3 linked regions of the Homo sapiens genome follow. The protein of the gene in region 1 purifies or fractionates together with the protein of each later gene. This does not show direct contact. Each region holds a gene or a part of one and is shown in the gene's direction. Other genes may lie near its edges.

Evidence for each region.
Region 2: the proteins of GNAT2 (region 1) and ACSL3 purify together in Homo sapiens (affinity purification with mass spectrometry; 3 studies listed by BioGRID and IntAct, with this or other methods). This does not show direct contact.
Region 3: the proteins of GNAT2 (region 1) and ACSL4 purify together in Homo sapiens (affinity purification with mass spectrometry; 3 studies listed by BioGRID and IntAct, with this or other methods). This does not show direct contact.

Annotation. Positions count from the first base shown.
Region 1 is NC_000001.11:109,601,997-109,609,718, reverse strand, and holds the end of GNAT2 (guanine nucleotide-binding protein G(t) subunit alpha-2), read left to right. Parts: intron 1-930; coding exon 931-1,088; intron 1,089-3,282; coding exon 3,283-3,411; intron 3,412-3,619; coding exon 3,620-3,749; intron 3,750-5,614; coding exon 5,615-5,768; intron 5,769-6,174; coding exon 6,175-6,365; 3' UTR 6,366-6,628; downstream 6,629-7,722. UniProt on the Homo sapiens protein: Guanine nucleotide-binding proteins (G proteins) are involved as modulators or transducers in various transmembrane signaling systems.
Region 2 is NC_000002.12:222,926,773-222,934,494, forward strand, and holds part of ACSL3 (fatty acid CoA ligase Acsl3), read left to right. Parts: intron 1-244; coding exon 245-417; intron 418-2,089; coding exon 2,090-2,164; intron 2,165-3,848; coding exon 3,849-4,040; intron 4,041-6,393; coding exon 6,394-6,508; intron 6,509-7,722. UniProt on the Homo sapiens protein: Acyl-CoA synthetases (ACSL) activates long-chain fatty acids for both synthesis of cellular lipids, and degradation via beta-oxidation.
Region 3 is NC_000023.11:109,729,799-109,738,216, reverse strand, and holds the start of ACSL4 (long-chain-fatty-acid--CoA ligase 4), read left to right. Parts: upstream 1-4,959; 5' UTR 4,960-5,078; exon of another isoform or gene 5,079-5,706; intron 5,707-8,418. UniProt on the Homo sapiens protein: Catalyzes the conversion of long-chain fatty acids to their active form acyl-CoA for both synthesis of cellular lipids, and degradation via beta-oxidation. Preferentially activates arachidonate and eicosapentaenoate as substrates.

The DNA of each region.
Region 1 (7,722 bases):
GCTTGACTACAAAGCTGAATATTTTTCATAATACACCACAATTATGCAGTCCTGGAGAAGTAAGCAACATCCACCCTTATTTTTACTGGGACAGGGTCTTCCTCTCTTACCCAGGCTGGAATGCAGTGGTGTGATCATGGCTCACTGCAATCTCACCCTCCCAGGCTTAAGTGATTCTCCCACCTCAGCCCCAGTAGGTGGGACCACAGGTGTGCACCACCACACCCAGCTATTTTTTAAAATTTTTTTGTAGAGAAGGGGTCTTGCCATCTTGTCTAGGCTGGTGTCAAACTCCTGGCCTTAAGCAATCCTCCTGCCTCAGACTCCGAAAGTGTTGAGATTACAGGTGTGAGCCACCGTGCCTGTCCTCAAGCCCTACTTTATAACACATATTTACAAAATAAAGCTGCTCACAGCTTCCTCTGCTTTTTTACTTTACCATTTAAATTGCTACCCTTGGGTTCCTGGCCATGGAACTTTTGTAAGTGAAATCCCTACTTCTAGTACTGGACTTTTTCTAGCTTTCAATCGCTGAAGAACAAAGGTGATGGGTCCCTGTCTTCTATCTTGTCTATTTCATGGTCAATCTGGCCTTTACATTTTCAGTCTCTCTGCAGCAGAGGACCCACGTTTTGTGGCGGTAAACTTTCAGACTAAGGATGGAAGCCAGAAACTCCAGAGAGGAAATACCTGGGACCCCTGCCCCGCTTTAGACACACCCCAGGGCTGGGTATAGTGCCACCCTCTGCATCTGGGGAGCATACTCAAAAATTCAACAGTATGTTTTCTTACATAGAATCTTCACTGGATACTGCTTCCATCTTAGGTCTTCGTAGTAATGTAAAATGATTTCCATTCAGCAGTATTCCCAGAAGCCTCCTGGAAAGCTATTACTCCTGTGAAGTTCTTAACCAGGTTTCTGCATTACAGGATGACGGGCGACAGCTCAACAACCTGGCTGACTCCATTGAGGAGGGAACCATGCCTCCTGAGCTCGTGGAGGTCATTAGGAGGTTGTGGAAGGATGGTGGGGTGCAAGCCTGCTTCGAGAGAGCTGCAGAATACCAGCTTAATGACTCCGCATCTTAGTAAGACTGACTGGTGAGAGGGTGGGTTGATGCTTAAGCAATCTTCTAGCCAGTCTTCTCTCTGGTTGGGAGAAACCTCACCCAACCCAAAATTTCAGGCATTGAAAGCTGGAGACCCAGACTGAATTCAGCCTGTGGATCTGTTTTGTTAGGCTTCAGCAATGTTTTGAATTTAATGCTATGGGGAGATCTGCCACAGTTGTCATGACTTTCTATTGCTTTACACTGGCTCACTACAGCCTACAAGGCTGAAGATGCAAAATTCAAAAGACGTGTTCTGCCTAGTAGCCCTCAGCCCTGTTCTCTTAATTGAGGTGTACACTAAGCCTCTCCTTCCAGAACCCTAAGATAGCCCTGCAGTTCTGTCATACACTCTCGCAGGAGTAATGTGATTCATGATGGCTCTTTCAGGGCAGAATTTTCTATCTGGTAATCTAGGATCTACTTAGGCCACTAAGCAGAAATGAGTCTCCTACACCTAGAGCATCTTATGTCACGATGCCAAGGCAGGGGACACAAACTACAAGGGCAAACCAAGGGAAGGTGGTCAGGAATTAGTACCATCATTGCAAAGCTGCTTCCAAAAAGCTAAGGGACATAATTTATCAATCCTACCTCAGACAGTATGGGATCATAGACAAGTATGGGCTTCAAAGTCAAACCTGAGTTTATTTAACCTAACCATCTGTCTCCTAATCTTGTAATAATGCTATCACTTACTGTTCCCGGAGCACTCAAAGCCCAGTCACTGCTAGGTGTACTGTGTATACCATCTCAACGCCCTTTACCCATCTACGCAGTAAGACCTTAAGGTAGATGGTACCTTTCTAATTAGCCTCATTTTACACATGGAAAAACTGAAGTTCAGAGAAGTTAATTAACTGCCCAAGGTCATGTAGATAAATAGCAGAGACTGCATTTGCATTGGGCTGCTTGACTACAAAGCTGAATATTTTTCATAATACACCACAATTTCTCTTGACCCTAGCCAAGTATTTAACTCTTCTGAATTTCTCCATCTGTAAAATGGGGATATGAAACTTGATGGCTTAGGAGTTTAAACGAGAATCTGAACATTAAAATGCCTGGCATACAATAGGCACTTGTGTTACTTGTACTTCCCTCCTCCTCTCAGTCATCTCAGTTCACATCTGCCTTCCTCTTGCCTTTTTTTTTTTTGGAGACGGAGTCTCGCTTTGTCACCCAGGCTGGAGTGCAGTGGCGCAATCTCGGCTCACTGCCAGCTTTGCCTCCCGGGTTCACGCCATTCTCCTGCCTCAGCCTCCCAAGTAGCTGGGGATACTGGCGCCCGCCACCATGCCCAGCTAATTTTTTGTATTTTTAGTAGAGATGGGGTTTCACCGTGTTAGCCAGGATGGTTTCGATCTCCTGACCTTGTGATCCGCCCGCCTCGGCCTCCCAAAGTACTGGGATTATAGGCGCGAGCCACCGTGCCTGGCCACCTTTTTTTTTTTTAAAAAAAATAACTTTTTCTTTTTTAAGGTAACTTTCAAACATACAAAAGTAGAAATAACATAATGAATTACCTTCAACAGTTATCAACTCATGGCCAATCTTATTTCTTTTTACCTCCATTCCCTACTGGATTATTTTGAAGCAAATTCCAGGTATCATTTCATCCTAAAAATGTCATTATGGATCTCTAAAATATTGACCCTTTTTATAAAAAGAATATAATCACACCCAAATAGTTAACAATTCCTTAATAGCATCAAATATCACCAAGTCGGTGTTCAAATTTCCCCAGTTATCTCAAATGTTTCCTCCCCAGTTTGATTCAGGATATAAACAAAGTCCATGTGTTGCATTGGTTCATGTCTTTAAAGTCTCTTTCAATTTACTGCCTCTTGATGGAACTTTTAGCACCCACTAAATCTCATTCAAAAATCTACAAAAGCTTGCAGTCAGGGCAAACCCAAGGAAAACTTATCTAACTTGATTTAAATGCGCTGGAACTCCAGCCTCAAATGGGCTTGTCCCTCAGTCCATCCCCCATTTCCTCTAGTTAATGACATATGAAGGTTTGAAGGAAAGAATCCTAAATTTAACAATATGGCTTCTAGTCCTGATTTCTATCACCAAATTAGCTGTGTGACTTTGGGTAAGATACCTTTTACGTCTCTTAGCCTCGTCTGTGGAAAATTTGTCATTGATGCTAATCACTTTTCTCTAGCTACCTGAACCAATTAGAACGAATTACAGACCCTGAGTACCTCCCTAGTGAGCAAGATGTGCTCCGATCCAGAGTCAAAACCACGGGCATCATTGAAACCAAGTTTTCCGTCAAAGACTTGAATTTCAGGTAAGTGCATGGTTCCCTAGGGCATCTCGGATACACGTGTGGAATCCTGAAAAGGGGCACAGGCAGGCTTCTTGGCCTTTGGTGAAGCCTAATCTAAATTACTGTTCTGCTTCTCCCCCTTTTCCTCTCCCACTTCACGGGGTGACCATCAAAGGCATATAGGTCGTATGTTGGGCATACCTATGAAAATAGCTGCTTCTTCCCTCAGGATGTTTGATGTGGGAGGGCAGAGATCCGAGAGAAAGAAGTGGATCCACTGCTTCGAGGGAGTCACCTGCATCATTTTCTGTGCAGCCCTCAGTGCCTATGATATGGTGCTGGTGGAAGATGACGAAGTGGTGAGTGGCCTTTGCATCAAGCAGCTTTGGTAGAACAAGTTCTCCCCATGACCCTTTCTCTAAGCCTTGTGTCACTCTACTGCCCCAACTTAGGTAATTTCAGTCTAGCAGCCCTCCAGCAGACCAATCAATGTCTCATGCAAATAATTCTAAAAAACAACTTCTTCTGCAGGTTCTAGATTAGCATTTTAGAGCTCCAAATTTACTGACAGTGAGCTTGGTCTCAAATTAGACATCTAAGTATCACTTGGACATCACAAAGCTCATAAGAGGAATTGAGTGCAAAGAGATAAGGGACCATCAACTAGGCAAAGCAAAGGAGTTACACTTAGTACTCTCCCAAATTGCCTAAGGAAGGAGATGAAAATGACAGAACAGAGAAAATAACATATGATATGAATCTTCATTGCAACATAATAGAAGGGTTGAGCTAGTAACCCCACTTAGGAGGCTAAAAATGTACTGTCCGTAGGAGTTTAAGGAGAGACTGGCAGACCAGCTTTCTCTCATGCCAATTAAATTGGCAGCTGGAAGACTACCCAAGAGTGGTTCTCTTTAGCCTGTAGAATTCTGTAGGACAGGAGTTCTATAGGACAAGTGTTAGAGCCCAGCCAGTTTCTGAATTTGGGAAAGGTTAGAGGTGAGAAAAACGTTAATTTCACCCAAGCATCTGCTTTCTGAATTTGGGAAAAGTTAGAGGCGTGAAAAACGTTAATTTCACCCAAGCATCTGCTCACAAATGGAGGTCCACACCTTGCTGATGACCTCTGAATTTGGGAAAGGTTAGAGGCGTGAAAAATGTTAATTTCACCCAAGCATCTGCTTACAAATGGAGGTCCACAGCTTGCTGATGAAAGGGATACTCCTATCCCTTGCCACAGCTTGTTCTCTTCCCTTCCCTTTGGTAGTTTTAACTTCACATTAGAGCACTCTGAATATCGTCTAATCAAAATGTCTTACAGAGCTATTCACTTCCCATCTTTAAGCCTAAAGATTACAGTCTATGAGACTTTCCATCTTTAACCCTAAAGTCTATGAGTCTATGAGGTTTATTAAAGTCTATGAGACATTAATAAAACAAGTCTATGAGACCTTAAAGGGTTGTACAGGAGTATTATGGGGAAAAAGCCACAAATGGGATTGTTCTTGCTTTATTAGATAAGTAGACTGAACGCAAGTCAGCTGATAGTATACTTCAAAACCCTAAAGACCTGCTCCCTAAAAGCAAGCTGGGCTGGGGCAATGGGCAGCCTCTGCAGATATGCAGCCCGACTTCTCGCTAAGTAGCAATCAGAGAAGGAAATGAGAGAGCAGAAATGCTTGTGGTATGGCACTGGGAAATTCTCTAACTCTCACCATGTGGCAGCAGGACCAAAGTAGCCCAAACTGAGATCTGGGACCCCATGAAAGAAGCCTATCAAAATCATCCTGGAGATGCATATGGGCACATGCTAACTTGGGCCTGTTTCAACCCATTATCAGCACTACTTATAAAATGTCAAGTTCTCAGTTGCATCCTGGCTGCTAAAGATCTGCATAACACATTATAGACCTATATGCCAGCCACTATCATGGACAATATACATACACAATCTCATTTAGCTTTCATTGTAACCCTATAAGATAGGAAAACAGACTCAGAAAAAGCTCAATAATTTTCCACAAGTCACACAGCTATTAGAAAGATAGGGAACTAGAATGATCCCACATCTCTCTGGCTTTACTCTGGTACATTGAGATAAGCTGTTCTCTGTCTTGCTTTTTACATTTGGAGCACTGGTCTCTCCAAGGGGAACAAGAGCAGGAAGTAGGTAGATATTCTATAAGCCAAATCTGATATTTCCAATGGTGTTTCCTCTTACTAGAATCGTATGCATGAGTCTTTGCATCTGTTCAACAGCATATGTAACCACAAATTCTTTGCGGCTACTTCCATTGTCCTCTTTCTCAACAAGAAGGACCTCTTTGAGGAAAAAATCAAGAAAGTCCATCTCAGCATTTGTTTTCCAGAGTATGATGGTAAGTGTCAGGGGCTGGAAATAATAATAATGCCTTTTAGTAGAGACTGGCAATTGTCTCATTTTTTAGGCCAAGATGACACAAAGGAACTTAAGGGAGAACCTTGGGCACAGTTACAGGGTTTAAATTCAGATACTCTGGAATACAGCAGGCATTAGATGCAGGAGAGCCACTGACTTCATATGATACCTACTGAAAACCAAAGGTGGAAAGACACCTCTCCTCAATTTCTTTTCAACTAAAGTGAGAAACACTGGAGTGCAATAGAGAATCTTCCCTCCAAAAATAGGCCCCCAACTGCTGTTGTCTAATAACATTTCAAGGATCAAGTCAATCACCTAAAGTGAGTCAGCAACTAACAAGGGTTCATTTATTCTACTTTTTCACTATTTTTCTGGAAAACCAGGTAACAACTCCTATGATGATGCGGGGAATTACATAAAGAGCCAGTTCCTTGACCTCAATATGCGAAAAGATGTCAAAGAAATCTACAGTCACATGACCTGTGCTACAGATACACAGAATGTCAAATTTGTGTTTGATGCAGTTACAGATATTATCATCAAAGAAAACCTCAAGGACTGCGGCCTCTTCTAATCCTCACCATTCCTCAGGTATAAGTTCTATAAACAGGCTTGGAATCTGGGTAATTAAAAACAGAAAATTATAGTCAATATACCATGACATGAAGAATGAATCCATTCTTTGGAGATGGAGTATACATGACTGCAACTGTATTTCATACGTTCTTTTCAAAGTGGGATAGCTATTGCAGCTTAAAGAGCACAGGCCAGTAGTTAGAAGACCCCCCAGGTTCCAGTACTGGTTTTCCAACTTAATACAAAACTGTGAATACTTTATTTCTGAGTCTTGAGTCTTTCAACTATAAAATGAAGATGACTTCCCTACCTACTTTACAGGGTTATTCTGAGGAGCACGAACATAACTGAAGGGAAGGCACATAAAAACTGCTTGTGCAGGCCAGGCACAGTGGCTCACGCTTGTAATCCCAGCACTTTGGGAGGCCAAGGTGGGCAGATCACGAGATCAGGAATTTGAGACCAGCCTGGCCAACACAGTGAAACCCTGTCTCTACCAAAAATACAAAAATTAGCTGGGCATGGTGGCAGGCGCCTGTAATCCCAGCTGCTCGGGAGGCTGAGGCAAGAGAATTGCTTGAACCCGGGAGGCAGAGGTTGTAGTGAGCCAAGATCACGCCACTGCACTCTAACCTGGGCAACAGAACTGTCTCAAAAAAAAAAAAAAAAAAAAAAAAGCCTGCTTGTGCTTAGGGTCACAGAAATAAATCCTATATAAAAATATAAAAGCTGCCATATATTAAATTCAACACCTGGTTTTTAGAATAAACTATTGCAACAAACTATTCCAAGCAAAATAGCAAGGCTTCCTATAGTCTGTAAAAAACTAGTATTAACCAAACCTAAATAAACCTGCCATTCCCTTTTTACTAACAGACCTCTATGTGCCTTAGCTCAGAGATCTGGATCACTGGATAGGAGATGCGAGTTTGTTAGTTTCTAAGGCACATCCCAAAACGATCATCTTTATTAAGCAAACATTATCCCTCTGCCCCCAGGCTATCAAACAGACCTTTATCTCTACAAATGTTTCTTAGCTACATAAGATACTTCCTGAATAAACTTAGAGGACATCAAATACTCTCATTTAGAGTATTAATGAATGTATTGCTGCCGCCTCTCTATCATAGAATTTGGAACAAGTGAACAATTCTAAACTTTTCAACTGCTACGTGTTTCAGAAGAACCAAGACAGGTGAGCTTGTTTTAGGCACTGAAAATCTTTGCAGTTGGGTCCATGTGATGGTGGATGAAAACATCTCCCCAAACACGCCAAGAAGTTTTCCTTTGAACTCCTTTGAGGGGAAATGAAGTTTGCATTTATCTTGACAGAAGGGGATGAAGTTAAGTATATA
Region 2 (7,722 bases), on another chromosome or scaffold:
CCTGACAATTCAAATTCGAATATCACTTGAAAAGCTCTTAAGAGGAAATAATAAATTCTTTACCTTGTTGAACTTCAAAAAATTAACATTTGGGGCTCAAGAGACTCTCCAAATTGGCTGTGTGACCTTGGATAAGTAACTTAATCTCAAAATCTCTCATATCAAAACTGGGGGATTAGTTTAAGTGATTTGGAAAATCCCATTCAGTTTTAAAATCCTGTGGTTCTCTAATTTTTTTCTTTAGCTTTGTTTTCCGGAAAGTTCGAAGCTTGCTAGGGGGAAATATTCGTCTCCTGTTGTGTGGTGGCGCTCCACTTTCTGCAACCACGCAGCGATTCATGAACATCTGTTTCTGCTGTCCTGTTGGTCAGGGATACGGGCTCACTGAATCTGCTGGGGCTGGAACAATTTCCGAAGGTAGTGTTCTCCATGGTCAGAGGCTGGAGTGTGATGCCAGACGTTTTTTTGGGGTATGGGATATTTTCTGCAAATATATAGGAGAAGAGTAGTAAGGTGTTTGTGAGGCAGAATAATGGTGGATTCCAAGTACTATGATCATTGATATCAATTTTTAGAATGTATTAGATGCATCTGGAGTCAATAATTTATCTGGAGAAGTTTTTATATCAAACTGATAGGTAATATTAAAAACCACTTAGCATTTTGGAAGAGAAACTTTAGTAACAAACACTGACTGTTTTGTGTACATTTATTTTCTCACATCAGTGATTAAATTTCTTTTTATGTAGAAAACTTAAGGTGCTTTTGTTTATTTGTGTAGGTGAGTATATTAAGGCTCAGGTTCAGAAATGTTTATGAGGATTTCTGTAAGTGTTAGAGAAGGAACTAAGTTCTGGTCTAGGGAATATTATTACCAGAGTTTATCATGTGGTTGTGTTTGAGGAGGAGATCTACCAACTAATCAGCAGTTCTGAGATGAATCGCATAGGGCCTCATGCGTCCCTTTTATGGGAGAAAGTTATTTTGCTTTCCGGTACAGGATACAGCTGTGCTTCTCCTACTTTGTATTTGCCATATACGGATAGATACAAAACCTCATGACTGATTTTTCCCTATTTATTTTGAGTGGCTCTGTATACCATTTTCATGTATTACTTCATTTTTCTGTTTTTCAGTTATGTTCTCTGTTTTCGTATATTTTTGGAAGCTAGTTCTAAGTCATGTTTTGTAGGAAATAAGCAATCTTAAATACATGCATAGGGGATTTCTTTCTTCTGAGGATCCTTAATTTCTTCTATTTTTAAGATTCAAATTGAATGATTAATCAGTAACAGTTTATGTTTTAAATAAAAGTCTTTAAAATGTTAAATATCAGCCTTTCATTTCTGATATTTGGTCTTTGAAGAGGAAACATAATGCAATAGTAATTCATAATAGTGGAGGGTTCTTTCCTCACATCCTTGAAAGCCACCAGTCTTATTCTTCAGCCTGGCTCTTGAGCTATTGCTGTATTAATTTTAAATAGGGTGTGATAGCATAAGCTGATGGAAGCCTGCAGAGATCTCACTTTGAAATGGTGATACATTACATGGGAAAAGATTAGAGAGGTGTTTTATACTGCACATCGGTGAGGCCTAATAAGAAAGTAGAATAGACGTAAACCATTGTTTTCATCATCCTTTAAGACAGGGATTTCAAACTCAAGAACCAGGCAGCTACCTATTTAAATGAGTCAAGTGGGCCCTAATGTAAGACAATGTGATGGGTAAGGATTGATTCTGAGGGAACAGGAGCAGGCATGCCCTCTCTAACAGAGGCCGTCAGTTCTGCTGTACCTGAAATGTGGGCCCATTGTTGCTGGCGATTCCACACTTACATCTAAAATTTCCTGATTTTTTAAGAATGACAATAACTAATTTAAAAAAAAAAAAAAAACCTCAATGTAGGCCAAAAAATACGACTCTACAGGCCTCACGGCCTGTGCTTCACCAATATGTGACTTCTGCTTTTAAGGAATAGCTGGGGATACCTCAGCCTTAGGATAAATAATCATTTTTGGTAATTTAGAAAAATGAAGCAGTGTATTAGCTACTGTTCTCAAATATCCTTTTTTTCATTTAATTCCTAGTGTGGGACTACAATACTGGCAGAGTGGGAGCACCATTAGTTTGCTGTGAAATCAAATTAAAAAACTGGGAGGAAGGTAATAAACTATTTTAACCACAGAGCATTAATTTTTAAAGTATTAAACTTGAAAATTAGTGCTTCACTTTCTTGCTTTAGAATGTAAACACCCATAAGTGCTCATTTTTGTCCTTTGTGATAGACGTGTTTTATCTCGAACTATATGAATGCATTTATTTTTCTTGTTTCAAAGATGTTTCTGAAGAACTATTATTGTTTTCATTTTACTTATTACGTAGATGCAAGTAAGAATTATGGCAAAAACTTGAGAAATGTACTAATAAGTGAATAATGTCAATAAATTAGGAGTGATCATAACTTTATTTTGCAGAAGTAAAATTATAAAATTTATTTTATGAAATTGTGGATTTTTAAATGATTTTTTTCTTTTTTTTTCTGAGGGCTTCAACCTTGTATTATTAGAAGGAAATTTTCACTGCAATTCCATAGAAGTCTGTTTATTCTCATGCCATTTAAAATAATGGTCACTTAAAAATTTATTTGATCCTGTTAAAATATACAAATTATCTGTGTTTTATTGGGATGCACCTTTCCTCTACATTAAGTAAAGATAAAGATTCTGGCCGGGCGCAGTGGCTCACTCCTGTAATCCCAGCACTTTGGGAGGCCAAGACGGGCGGATCATGGGGTCAGGAGTTCGAGACCAGCCTGACCAACATGGTGAAACCGTCTCTACTAAAAATACAAAAATTAGCCAGGCGTGGTGGTGCGTGCCTGTAATTCCAGCTACTCGGGAGGCTGAGGCAGGAGAATCACTTGAACCCGGGAGGTGGAGGTTGCAGTGAGCCAAGATTGCGCCACTGCACTCTAGCCTGGGTGACAGAGCGAAACTCTCATCTCCAAAATAAATAAATAAAGAAAGATTCTAAGGCTTGGATGTCTTTTAGCTATCTTTAGCAGAATTAGTGGGAATATTTAATAAATTTAGGCTTGGAGTCATTTTGAAATTATCTATAAGAATAAATCTTAATATGTAGTAACTCACTTTTTTTTTTTTTTTTTTTTTGACACGGAGTTTTGCTCTTGTTGCCCAGGCTGGAGTGCAGTGTCAATGGTTTCGGCTCACTGCAACCTCCACCTCCTGGGTTCAAGTGATTCTCCTGCCTCAGCCTCCCTAATAGCTGGGATTTCAGGTGTGCGCCACCATGCCCGACTAATTTTTTGTATTTTTAGTAGAGGTGGGGTTTCACCATGTTGGCCAGGCTGACCTCAAACTCCTGACCTCAGGCGATCCACCCTCCTTGGCCTCCCAAAGTGTTGTGATTACAGACATGAGCCACTGGCCCAGCAGTAACTCATTCTTATATAGGGATTTGTTCTATTAATTGCATGACTTAATACTTCTGTCAGTTTATCAATATGATATTTAAGATGTTGCAGAATCTTTCAAATAATTTGTCTCTTGTATTTATAATTTTATACAACAAATGGAAGATGTTGGGTTTTAGAGTTTAATTTTTTTCTCAGAATAGAAGTTTGAAAACATAAATACTTATGGTTTAGCAACTGAGATTTTGTGCCTACTGTTAAATTGATAAACTTTGTTCATTCATAGTGTCTGCCTTTTTTCCTTTGGGAAGTTCTAATTGGATTAAAATAAGATGACTGTTTAGAAACTAGTAGTTTCAAATTTTCATGTGTTGTATTTAACTCAACTATTAACTCAATTATTATTTTATTAGGTGGATACTTTAATACTGATAAGCCACACCCCAGGGGTGAAATTCTTATTGGGGGCCAAAGTGTGACAATGGGGTACTACAAAAATGAAGCAAAAACAAAAGCTGATTTCTTTGAAGATGAAAATGGACAAAGGTGGCTCTGTACTGGGGATATTGGAGAGTTTGAACCCGATGGATGCTTAAAGATTATTGGTAAGTCATCTAATATTTTTTTGAAAATGAATGTTTCTGAAATAGTTTACACAAGAAGCACAATATATTTAGAGGAGGCGCTGAATAATATAAATCTTTATGTAATCTTAGTTTGGGTTGTTGCATCACTCCTGGAATATAAAATATTACGGACTGTGGAATTTATGAGGCCTGACATGTTATGAGTTCTCAAAGATGGTTCAGCAGCAGTGGTATTTTAAATTACTCTTAGATAACCTTCAGTCATTGTTTCCTGCCTGTGTTTCTGACATCTAGAGATTAGTGGATGGAGCTCTCACAGTCTGAACTGCACCCTTGCCTTGCCCTGCCCAGGAGAATAGAGGAAAGCCAGGCAGCTCAAGTACTATGACTCATATGGGTTGAAAAATACCTTATTCTGCTTCTCCTTTTAGGTTCTTTTTTTTTAAAAGTTAATGGCATTTCAGTTAGCCGTGTGTGGTGTCTTTGTCGGGCACCTGTAATCCCAGCTACTTGGGAGGCCGAGGCAGGAGAATGGCATGAACCCGGGAGGCAGAGCTTGCAGCAAGCGGAGATCGCGACACTGCACTCCAACCTGGGCAACAGAGCAAGACTCTGTCTAAAAAAAAAAAAAAAGTTAATGGCATTTCTATCCCTGTCTTGCTAACTAGAAACCTGGGAGGAGACTCAAGACTGTTCTCTTCAGTCAGCTTCCCATGCCTATTTTATATCCCACTAGTTTATTTTATGAGCTATGTCTCAAAATCATACTCTTCTCTCTTTGTCTCTCTTACTTGATCATTGGTCAGGCCTGTACCTTCTGCCACCCTCTCCCAATAATTTCTCTGTTGCCATGTTTACCCCCTTAAACACACCCTCTCACTGCCACCATGTAATTACTAAACATGGATCTTACTGGCCACAACCATTTAATGTCTCCTAGAAGCTCAGTTCAGGGTGCCCCTGTTAACATTGTTCCCCTCTTCACCTTCATCGTCAGTTGTTTTCCTCCTCCTCCTTGATGCAGCTGAAATTAGAGCTGATGTTCTTCTGGCTTTTGCCAGTGTTGTTGCACCTGACCTCTCACTTTTCCCTTAGGACTCGGCTCAAGCAGCTGAGCATAGTGACTCAGGCCTGTAATCCCAGCTACTCGGGAGGCTGAGGTGGGAGTATCACAGGAGCCCAGGAGGCCGTGATTGTGCCACTGCACTCCAGTATGAGCAACAGAGTGAGACCCTGTCTCAAAATCTCAAAACCAACCAACCATCCAACCCTCAGCTCAGGCCTCACTTGCAAGAATTTTTTCCAAATCCCCAGGTTGGAGAGTCTTAACACTTAGCGCTACCATTGTAGTACCAATGTATTGAAGTAATACGTTTTTGCATTATGCATGTCTCCAGATAGGTTGTGAACTTGCAGATGGCATTGAATATCTTCTTCACCTGCCTGGTACTAATGGATACCAGAAATAAACCTGTTCAGAAGAACATACTTGAAGCCCTGCTAATGGAGTCCATTAAGTAGAAGTTAATTGTTTTTCTTTCTTTCTTTTTTTGAGATGTAGTCTTGCTCTGTCGCCCAGGCTGGAGTGCAGTGGCACCATCTCAGCTCACTGCAACCTCTGTCTCCTGGGTTCACGCAATTCTCCTGCCTCAGCCTCCTGAGTAGCTGGGATTACAGGTGTGCACCACCACGCCCAGCTAGTTTTCGTATTTTTAGTAGAGTCGGGGTTTCACCATGTTGGCCAGGCTGGTCTCGAACTCCTGACCTCAAGTGATGTGCCCGCCTCGGCCTCCCGAAGTGCTGGGATTACAGACATGAGCCACTGGACCTGGCCTGTTTTTCTTTTAAAAGCATGGGCCGGGCGCGGTGGCTCACGCCTGTAATCCCAGCACTTTGGGAGGCCGAGGCGGGTGGATCATGAGGTCAGGAGATCGAGACCATCCTGGCTAACAAGGTGAAACCCCGTCTCTACTAAAAATACAAAAAATTAGCCGGGCGCGGTGGCGGGCGCCTGTAGTCCCAGCTACTCGGGAGGCTGAGGCAGGAGAATGGCGTGAACCCGGGAAGCGGAGCTTGCAGTGAGCCGAGATTGCGCCACTGCAGTCCGCAGTCCAGCCTGGGCGACAGAGCGAGACTCCGTCTCAAAAAAAAAAAAAAAAAAAAAAAAGCATGTATTTAGCAGTACAAAAATTAGGGCCTAATTTTAATATGTGCTTTTAATTTCAGCATAACCATTAATGCTTAATTTTGCAAAGTTTTAAATAATTTGATAGCAAATTACTTAGAGAATGGCCAGTATTTATATATGTATTAAATGTTACTAATATTATTACTCATTGTTTTCCCCTCTCCACCTTTCTTTGTTTTGCAGATCGTAAAAAGGACCTTGTAAAACTACAGGCAGGGGAATATGTTTCTCTTGGGAAAGTAGAGGCAGCTTTGAAGAATCTTCCACTAGTAGATAACATTTGTGCATATGCAAACAGGTAAGAACGTGGAATTCATACTACTTTTACTTAAAATATTTGATGTCCATAGACATTTCCTACCTGTATGGACCTTCTTTGTAAAAATGTTCCGAGAACTCTTCCTATCTGTTACTTGTGGGAATGGCCTCCTTCTCATTGCAGCCATTAGCTGACTCTTTTCCTTGTAAGGCTTCCCCTGATCTTTCTCTCTGTCCCTGTTTTCTGCTTTACGTCTCACTGCAGTGTCCCATGGAGGGAGGTGAAGAAAATAAAACCTTCCTTCCTGCTGCCTTGGTACCCCTACCTACCTGTCCCTCAGCAGGGGAAGCTTCACAGAACTACTCCAGAGGAATGGGGAGTAAAGAAGTGGCAGTGAGGAGTGTGCTGCTTACTTACTCCTGCTCTACACTTGAGCCTGCTCGGCACTCCAGGCAGGTCTTGGGGCTCCTATGTAAGCTGTGTTAAGCTGCAGCCTAAACACACAGCCTCCCCACCTCATGATGATGAAGAGGCAGCTGGGGACCTGTCTACGACAGTTGACATGAATTATTATGGGAAAATAAAATCTGTTATCAGGAAAACTAATTTAGAAACAGATGTTGGGGGTACAGCCCAAGTTAGAAATGAATTGCATTTATTTATAAATGATTCTGGTCTTTAGCCATTTAGTATTTTCTTTAGTGATGATACAGATCTGGATTTATTCATGTGATAGTAACCAGAAGCATCTTCTTCCTGATGTTACTATTTTATGGCCTTCAAAAAAGTATTTGCCTTCGTTGGGCATAGTCAGAGTTCCTCTATCAATACAAATTCTGATGATAACAAAAGAAAAAAAAGAATATATTCACATCATTTTGATTCGTTGCTGAATTTTTAAGATAGTTTTTAATTTATGTTAAATTTTAGTTTTTTAAAACACATGCTATGAAATACTGATAGGGTTTAAAGGTGAATATTCTAATATTTGTAACTTTCTTTTAAAATGTGTACATGGCAGTATTCATAACAGTTTTTCATAGTTGAAATTCATCATGAAATGTCAGATTGAAGTTTATTTAGCAACGAACTCTGCCAAAGCATTGGAAAATATTATGAATCAAACAGTAAAACTGGCGGTTGCATGAAATGGATATGCCAGTGCCAAGTATGGCACATGCATTTTAAAAAAAATGAGGAGTTATTTACTACTTGTCACTGTAATAATAACTGCAGTCAACACAGTTCACCAT
Region 3 (8,418 bases), on another chromosome or scaffold:
CTATTAAAATAATACTCTGGTTACTATTCCTGTGCATAGATCTTTGTGTATTTGTTCAAGTTTCTCTGTATAGTAGAGCCCTGTACATGAAAATGTCAAAGAGTATATGCATTTTAAAATTTAAAAGATACTGCCAAATTGTCTTTTAAAAAGGCCAGACTGGGTGCAGTGGTTCACGCCTGTAATCTCAGCACTTTGGGAGGCCGAGGCAGGTGGATCACCTGAGTTCTGAGTTCAAGACCAGCCTGCCCAACGTGGTGAAACCCCATCTCTACTAAAAATACAAAAGTTAGCTGGGCATGGGGGCGGGCACCTGTAATCCCAGCTACTCAGGAGGCTGAGGCATGAGAATCTCTTGAACCCGGGAGGCAGAGGTTGCAGTGAGCTGAGGTCGTGCCACTGCACTCCAGCCTGGGCAACAGTGCAAGACTCTGTCTCAAAAATAAACAAATAAAATAAAATAAAGGGGCCAAACCAATTTACGCTCCTACTTAGAATATATGAGTGCAAGTTTCTTCATATTCTTGCCAAAATTGAATATTATCAATCTAAAGATCTTACCAACTTGAAAAGAAAAATTAAAAATATTTAATAATCTTTTATATCTATTTCTAAAAGTAATAATTATTCATTCAAACATATTGTTAAAAATGTTTTATTTGAATAACAGTAATTTGGCTTGTATCAGGTGCCATGTAGGGTCCAAGTGAAGCAGACAGTTTTATTACAGAATTTTGGTTTGAAGAGGGATGCTTTGAATAAATATCCAAAGGTTTAATCAGTCCAATAGTCCCAGTGGGGACTATTCACTCAGTTTCAGAGTGAAATAGTCCCATAATTATTTAAGCATAATTATGGGGTTTGTCTATTTCATAGACGGCATTAGCAACAGGAATATTTGTAGGATTGATGGGAATGGAGATTAACTTGGAGGTCAGATAGTGACTTAGTGAATGAAGTGGCTGTAGACCACTTCTCAAGGAATTTGTCCTTAGTTGTAAAGAAAGTTACTGAATAGGAGAATCTGGAGAAAGATTGTTCTGGTTCTAGCTTCCTTTTTCTCATCTGTGAAATGAAGAGGTTGAACTTGGTGATTAATAGCCATCATTTTATACACACTTGCCATAAATCAGGAATTTTATAGGCATGATTTCATTTAATCCTCCCTCAGAAGAGTCTTATGAATGAGGTACCATTATTATCCCCAATTTACAGAAGAGGCTGAGGCTCAGGAAAATGTTATATAACTTGGTCTAGGGTGGTTGGCTTAAGTCCAAACCCATATGGTTTCCATCGTGCTACTCTGCATCTAAGTGGCTTCCCAGCACTAATAGTCGAAGATTTTGAGTAAGGGACATTTTAAAATTTTGTTATTTTACTGGTCTTTTAAGAATAGGACATATTGGAAGCTTTTTGTATGTTAAAGGGAAAGCATAATAAAAAGAGATTTAAGGCAAGTTATGAAATTGATGACCTATCTTTTTTTGTAATATTACTAGGCTAGAATCACTACAGAGAGTGGGCAAAAATATACCAAAGGCAACTTTCTTACAGATTCAATGACAACCACAATAGATTTTTCACATACTCATGGCCTTATGGATAATAAAAATATTTTGTTATTTTTGATTCTTTATGGGAAGGTCACACAAACAATTTCAAGGATAACTGTGGAGGATTTTATTTAGAGGGTGTTGTAGTTATCTTTAAAAAGGACAAATGAGTTTCATGAGAGAAACCGAAATTAAGTTCCATTAAAATCCTGCTGTGATTTTGATGTGGACCACACTGTCTTGACGGATTAATTTGGAAAAACTTGACTCCATGCAATACTGTGTCTTCCTATCTGGGTGCACTAGATGTCTATTTGTTTTGGTGTTTCCATTAATTTAAAAACCTGAAAAATGTGCCAGAATGAAAAGAAATAGTTATTTTGAAAAAACAAATCATTTCTCAAAAATAACATTTAGATGTAGCTACTATGCCTTTGATCATTTTTGAAAGGAGTGGCTTAGGTTATTATTTATGTTCACAGTGAGATGATCATCTACGTAGGTTTCTGATTTCACCGGTTGTTTAACACAAGCCACTAAAGACAATATTTGGCCTGGTTGTTGGGTCTGCAAAAAATAAGGTTTGTTAATGACAAAATCTAACACAACTTGTCAATGCAAATATTATTATGAAGCCCTGCTGCTTGTATTTAGACCACAGGAGAAAATTATTATTATTCTACAAACCCGTGAAGTTTAACACGCAAAGGCTTGTTACACAGTCAATGAAGAACAGTTGTTTTCTGCCCTTCCATAAATAACTAATGCCAAGAGCAGCCTGGCTATCTGTTTCAGCTTCTTGTTACAGAATAATAAAATAGGCAAGGCCTAAATATCAGTGCCTGTTAACAGAGCTGTCCTTTAAATTCTGTTTAGCTTCTAACAGACTAATTCTCATGCTTTTAGTACTTATTACATTGCATTTTGAATCTGTCAATTGCATTGTACATTTTCCTAACTCTTCCATTTCCATACGTTTATCTACTCCATTTCTAATTGGGTTGGTAGTTCTGGGTAGGACTCATTACAGAGGCAGCTTAATGTAGCGGCAAGCACCCTGGTCTAGGAGTCATAAGCAGTGTAGTAGGAAATTCAGGCTCTGTTACTACTTAGTTGTGTGACTGGACAAGACACTTAACCTGCATCTATTTCTTCATCTGTGAAATAGGGATAATAATACCCTATCTTCCTAACTAATAAACAACGTTGCAAATGTTCTCTTTAAAATGTCAGACAGCTGCTTGGGAAATATTTTGCTCCTGGGCAGTAATTTCTGGAAGGTTTCTGATGACAAGAAATTAAGCAAGGTTTGTTTTGACTCCGAAAAAGGAAAGCTGGAAATAGCGTGGTTATACTTGGTTTCCTTTTTGGAGGTATAGTTCTTCTTTCCTCTTCAACTTGGGTGCAGTTAAATGTGGAAGAAGGTGAGATGTGGTAGGTGATGAAGACAGCCAGAACTGTACACACTAATGAATAGCTTAAGTAATAAGAGATCTTGAAAATCCAAGTAGTTTCTTGGTCTGATAAACATATCTATATGTATATCATACACACATTTGTATACCAAAAAACGGATAGTTTCAGGCTATAGTGATTTCTTTCCTTTATATCTTGTAGAGCTGGAGGAACTTCAGTAAGCTGAAGACTCTGTTCAGAGGAAATTACCTAATTGAAAATGTCTGGGCTAAGAGACCGACAATAAAGGAAACTGGCAAAAGTACTCTTTAATTACAAGTTCTTTTTCATCTTCATCCAGCACACTGATTTATGTGCTACACTGGGTTTGTATTATATCTATATTTTAATTCCACAACTAGACACTAACTTTATTGAGAACAGCGATATTCATTTCTTCAATTTCATTTGTGTTAACCCAACTGTAGGTGATAGTGCTCTGTACATCATAGTTACCCAGTGAATTACGTACCTGACATATGATTGCTTATTTCTGGTATTAAAACAAGATTTCATAAAATAAACATGACAATTAAACTCGTTGTTTGAAGTACTGAACTTTGTAGGTCAATCTTGAAAAAGGAAGCTACATGACTGTCTTAGCAATATTTATAGGTATATTATATGTAAGTGGGTGGGTTTCTTGGAAATTGAATTGGTAATATGGCTTTAGAGTAGTAACACAAAAACTATAGCTCTGTGCTCTCAGCTAACCACTTTTAGTGTCACCTGGGCTGCTTATTAAAAATTCAAATTTCTTATCCCTACCCAGATCAGAATCAAAATACCTGGGGGTTGTAGCTCCAGGTACCTACATTTCAACAAGCACCCCAGATAATTGTGATGCACACTGAAGAACTACTCTAGCTTGTAATCTCAGGTGGTAAGGCATTTTATATATACATATATATATACACACACACAAGCACAAATGGTAATTCTATGGGAAAATGGAAATCAGCAAGTGAAGTGAAATGTCAATTACCATCAGGAACAGGAAGCTAGTTCACCATTACGCATCAGGGAACTGGAAGAATTCTTGAGATTTATTTTTTTGGGTGATATATTCTTGGCAGTTTATCAGGCCTCATTTGCAATTATGGTCTGTCCCTTTTGAAGCCCTCAGATAGTTCGCTGGCATTTTAATTTTAATAGCAATTTCTTGCATCTGTTGGAACAGCATTCGTATGACCGGCTTATAAGCAATGATCAGGGCTAGTAAGATGTCACAAAGCTGCGGTGACTTTTCCTTATCAGTTGGGGGTTTTTTTGCCATGATACCATCGTGGAAATGAAAGACAACGTGAAAATCCTGCGTCCTTGTGATATTTCATCAGTGGGAGTGAGCGGGGATCTTAACGCAGTAAGAGGCAAGATAAACGGATGAGAGGCATTAGTTCAGGCTTACAGGAGCAAGATGCTTTTAGTCAAAGTGTTCAAGATAGCTCTCTTAAAGAGGAGCAGTGAAACCCAAAAATGAGTGTCTTTTGAGGGCAGCTGGAAGATGACCCGAGGGGAACTTTTATCCTGGGGTGGAGTCCTGCGAAGCAAGCCGCAGGTGAGGGCGTGGGCCAATTCTGCGCCTCACTGCTGTTAGGCGCAAGGACATCCCGAAACACACTCAACGACACCAGCAGCGAGACTGACAGAAGCGGATCGCCAGCGGGAGCAACAACTTGAGGCGAGCCGTTAGCCGCCTCGCCTTCCTCGCAGCGCCCCTCCCGCGCCCCGGGAAGCCCGTTCGGCTCCGCCTTTTCGACTGACGTCCCGGGCGAGCGGGGGCGGGCGCGTGGGTGGGCCGAGCCGTCTGCAGCCAGCGATTCGGCTGGCTCTGCCACACCACCGCGCGCCCCCGCTCCGCCCGCCCCTCCGGGCGCGTCTTTTCCGGGCTCGCGCTGAGTCCCGCCTCCGCCGGCTGTCCGGGTGCGCGCGCGCCGCTGCGGCTTTTTCTCTGGCCTCCGCCGCGCGCTCCTCCTCGTCCCAGCGCTAGCGGGCACGCGGTTCCTTTTTGCGAGCTTTCCGAGTGCCAGGCGCCGGCCGGCTGCGAAGACGCGGTGGGCCGCCCCTCCGGTGAGTATCCCTGGATGGGGAGGTTGCGGCCCCGGCACCCCTGCCCTGTCGGTACCAGGGCCCCATTTCCAGAGGGGGACTGGCGTACCTCACCTGAGCCGGGAGGAGGTTGGGTGGGCATTCCAGCTCCTGGAGTCGGCTCGCTTTTTTCCTTGAGCCAGGGCTATCTATCCGCTCGCCTCCGCTGGGGCCGGGAAGATTCCCGAGGTCACTGTATCTGCTCCTGTGATGGACTCTGGGGTCCTCGGAACCCCAGCCTGCCTCTTCCTGCCGCTCACCGCATCCCGAGGGCCAGAAGTCATCTTCCTGATCGGGGTACTAGGCTTTGCCACGGCCCTTTCCGGAGGAGACCATGAAGTGCTTGCTAGACCTCCAAACGACCTTTAGGGTGCCCCTAAACCTCAACTCCATTTTGTCCCCTCCCAGTCGCTCTGTAACTGAGGGCTAGGGAGCCTCTCTAGCCCTAGAGGCATCCGCCCTCTCGAATTTGAGGGATGCCGTCGCTTCCGATATCTTCCTTGCTTCCGATATCTTCCTAGCTTCCGTAGGCTTAGGTTTGTTAGAAAACAGCTGGATCCTGGCGAAGCGTGCTTTCCTTCCTTCCCCCACCCCCGTTCTTTCTGTCTACATCCCTGCCTTCAGTGGGTGCTATATATTTAGTATGAGCTTTATTCACTTCCTCTTCCTCTCGTTTGAGTGCCTGAAAGAACTGTGGCTGATGTCTATAGACATAGAAAAATCTAGGAGAATATGATTCATTGTCTAACCCCATCAAGGGGTTACATATTTTAAATAAGACGTCATTTCTCCTCTTCACTCCAGCATCTCCTCCTTCAAAGGCATTTTTCACCCTCTTGAAATTAATACGCTCTATTCGCTCTTTTCACCTAAAAAAAGGTCAATCGTCGCTCTGAGAAACAACAGTGAGATGCAAAATAAGGGTAAAATGGCATTGAAATGAATCCCTTTGAAAAAGTAAGCGGTTTGCTTTATCAGTTAATGGTCTCATCAGCGCTTCAGTTTCCTCTTCTGCAAAAATCAGTCTGTTGAACTAGAGCATATCAAAGGTTCCTTCTAGTGTTTTGATTCTAGGACCTCTAAATTCATGCAGGCTGCATAATGCAAATTTAACCTGATTAAAGCCTTATTTCTCATAGTCGCTTGTCACCTTAGTTTTTCTTTTATTTTGTCTCTAACAAGAAAGACTTTTAAATGTTCTTGATACGTAAGGCAGCAGGTGGAGATTCAATGATGGTACTGCCATTGAGCATATCGGTCAAGATTTTAACAGTGTAAGGCCTCTTCCTTAAATTGTAAAATAGCTCATCTTTTGATTGAAACTGCTAAAGTGTAAGACATGTAAGACTCCTGTTAGAATTAACACTCTCTGCCATTTAGGTGGGGGATGAAACATTAAACTGTTAGTATACTTGTACCTTAGAATAAAGTACCTTATTGTCCTGCTATAAGAAATAATTTGACAACTAAAAATCCATGGAAGGTGTAATACAGCAATTGAAAGCTTGAGTAAATTCAATTTTGTGGGTTTTTTTTTTTTTTTGGAAAACCCCCTATTTAAAAACACAAGTGATTTAGATTAAGATATTTCTTTCAGTATTTTTGGTAGGGGTGAGATGGGTGAAGAAAGAAGAGTCTTGTTCAATTCAGACAAGAGAAATGAATTGGAACTCTGGAGAGGCTCAGGTTCTAGACCCAACTCTAGATATATATTTAACCTTGAACAAGTCACTTCACCTCTCTTAGTTTTTGCATCTGTAAAATAAGTGTCTTTATGGTTGTTGAAATGATCCACAAGTCCCCCAATTTGAATGATATATTCTTATAATGAATATATATGACAAATATATATATACACACGTGTATATATAGGTATACACACACACATATAATGCAATTTGCGTTAAGGCTGTTATAAATCCTGTTATACCAGTTGACTAGAATGTTTTTCTCAAAGGTTTGTGTATAGTGGTTTCAATTTAGGTATACTTAGTTCTTAATCCTGATTAAATAAATAATTATATGTGAAAATCTATAAACTCAGAAGCATTTTACAAATGTTGGGTATTATGTTAATTTCTGCTTGCAAGTGAAATGTGTGTTATACCGCACTATTTTTTAAATGTCCATGGCTTTTAGAAATTTATAAGGGAATGGCTGGGTGTGGTGGCTCACGCCTGTAATCCTAGCACTTTGGGAGGCCGAGGCCGGCGGATCATGAGGTCAGGAGATCGAGACCATCCTGGCTAATACGGTGGAACCCCGTCTCTACTAAAAATACAAAAAATTAGCCAGGCGTGGTGGTGGGTGACTGTAGTCCCAGCTACTTGGGAGGCTGAGGCAGAAGAATGGCGTGAACCCGGAAGGTGGAGCTTGCAGTGAGCCGAGATCGCGCCACCGCACTCACATACTGCCTTACAACTGTAATTGGCTAGGAACTTTAAAATAATATGTGGGCATCTCATTCATTTATTAATTCATTCAACTATCTTCTTCCTTCATCTGTCACGTATGTCAGGCCCTCAGGACATGATGGTTAAGACAAACCCTACTCTATGAGTTTATACTTTGGGCTGATGGAGATGGTTGGGGGGCATGTGGAGAGACAGATGTACATCCAGTTTATTTTTGTTAAAAACAACAACAGTCAAATCAAGGACAAACAAAATTCTGGAGAAGTTAAGTTTCCATAGGGGAGGAAGAGATGATTCTATTAATTGTAGCCTGTAGACTCTTTGACATTACCTTTTTCTCCATCCTTTCAATTGCTGAGCCTTTAGCAAAAATAAAAGCTTTGTTTTTCCACTTCTACCATTGGCTGGTCTTATATACTCTTTCTTTCCCTTTTAACTTTTTATTTTGAGATAGTTGTAGATTCACATATAGTTGTAAGAAATAATACGCTTTATCTAATTTCCCCCAATAATAGCCTCATGCATAAGTATAGTGTAACATCACAACTACAAAATTGAAATCGATGCAATCCATCAACCTTACTCAGATTTCGTCACCTTTAATGCAGTCATTTGCATGTATGTATTTAGTTCTACATAATGTTATCACGTGTAGATTTATATAAGCACTACCACAGTCAAGATACAGAACAATTGCATCACCACAAGGATCCTTTTTGTTGTCTTTTTATAGATGTAGCCATCTCCCTTCATCCCTGACTCCTGGCAACCACTGATCTGTTTTTCATGTCTATAATTTTGTCATTTCAAAAATGCTTATATAAATGAATCACACAGTATATAACCTTTGGAGACTGACTTTACTTCACTCAGCATAATTCCTTGGAGATTAGTGCAAGGAATATACC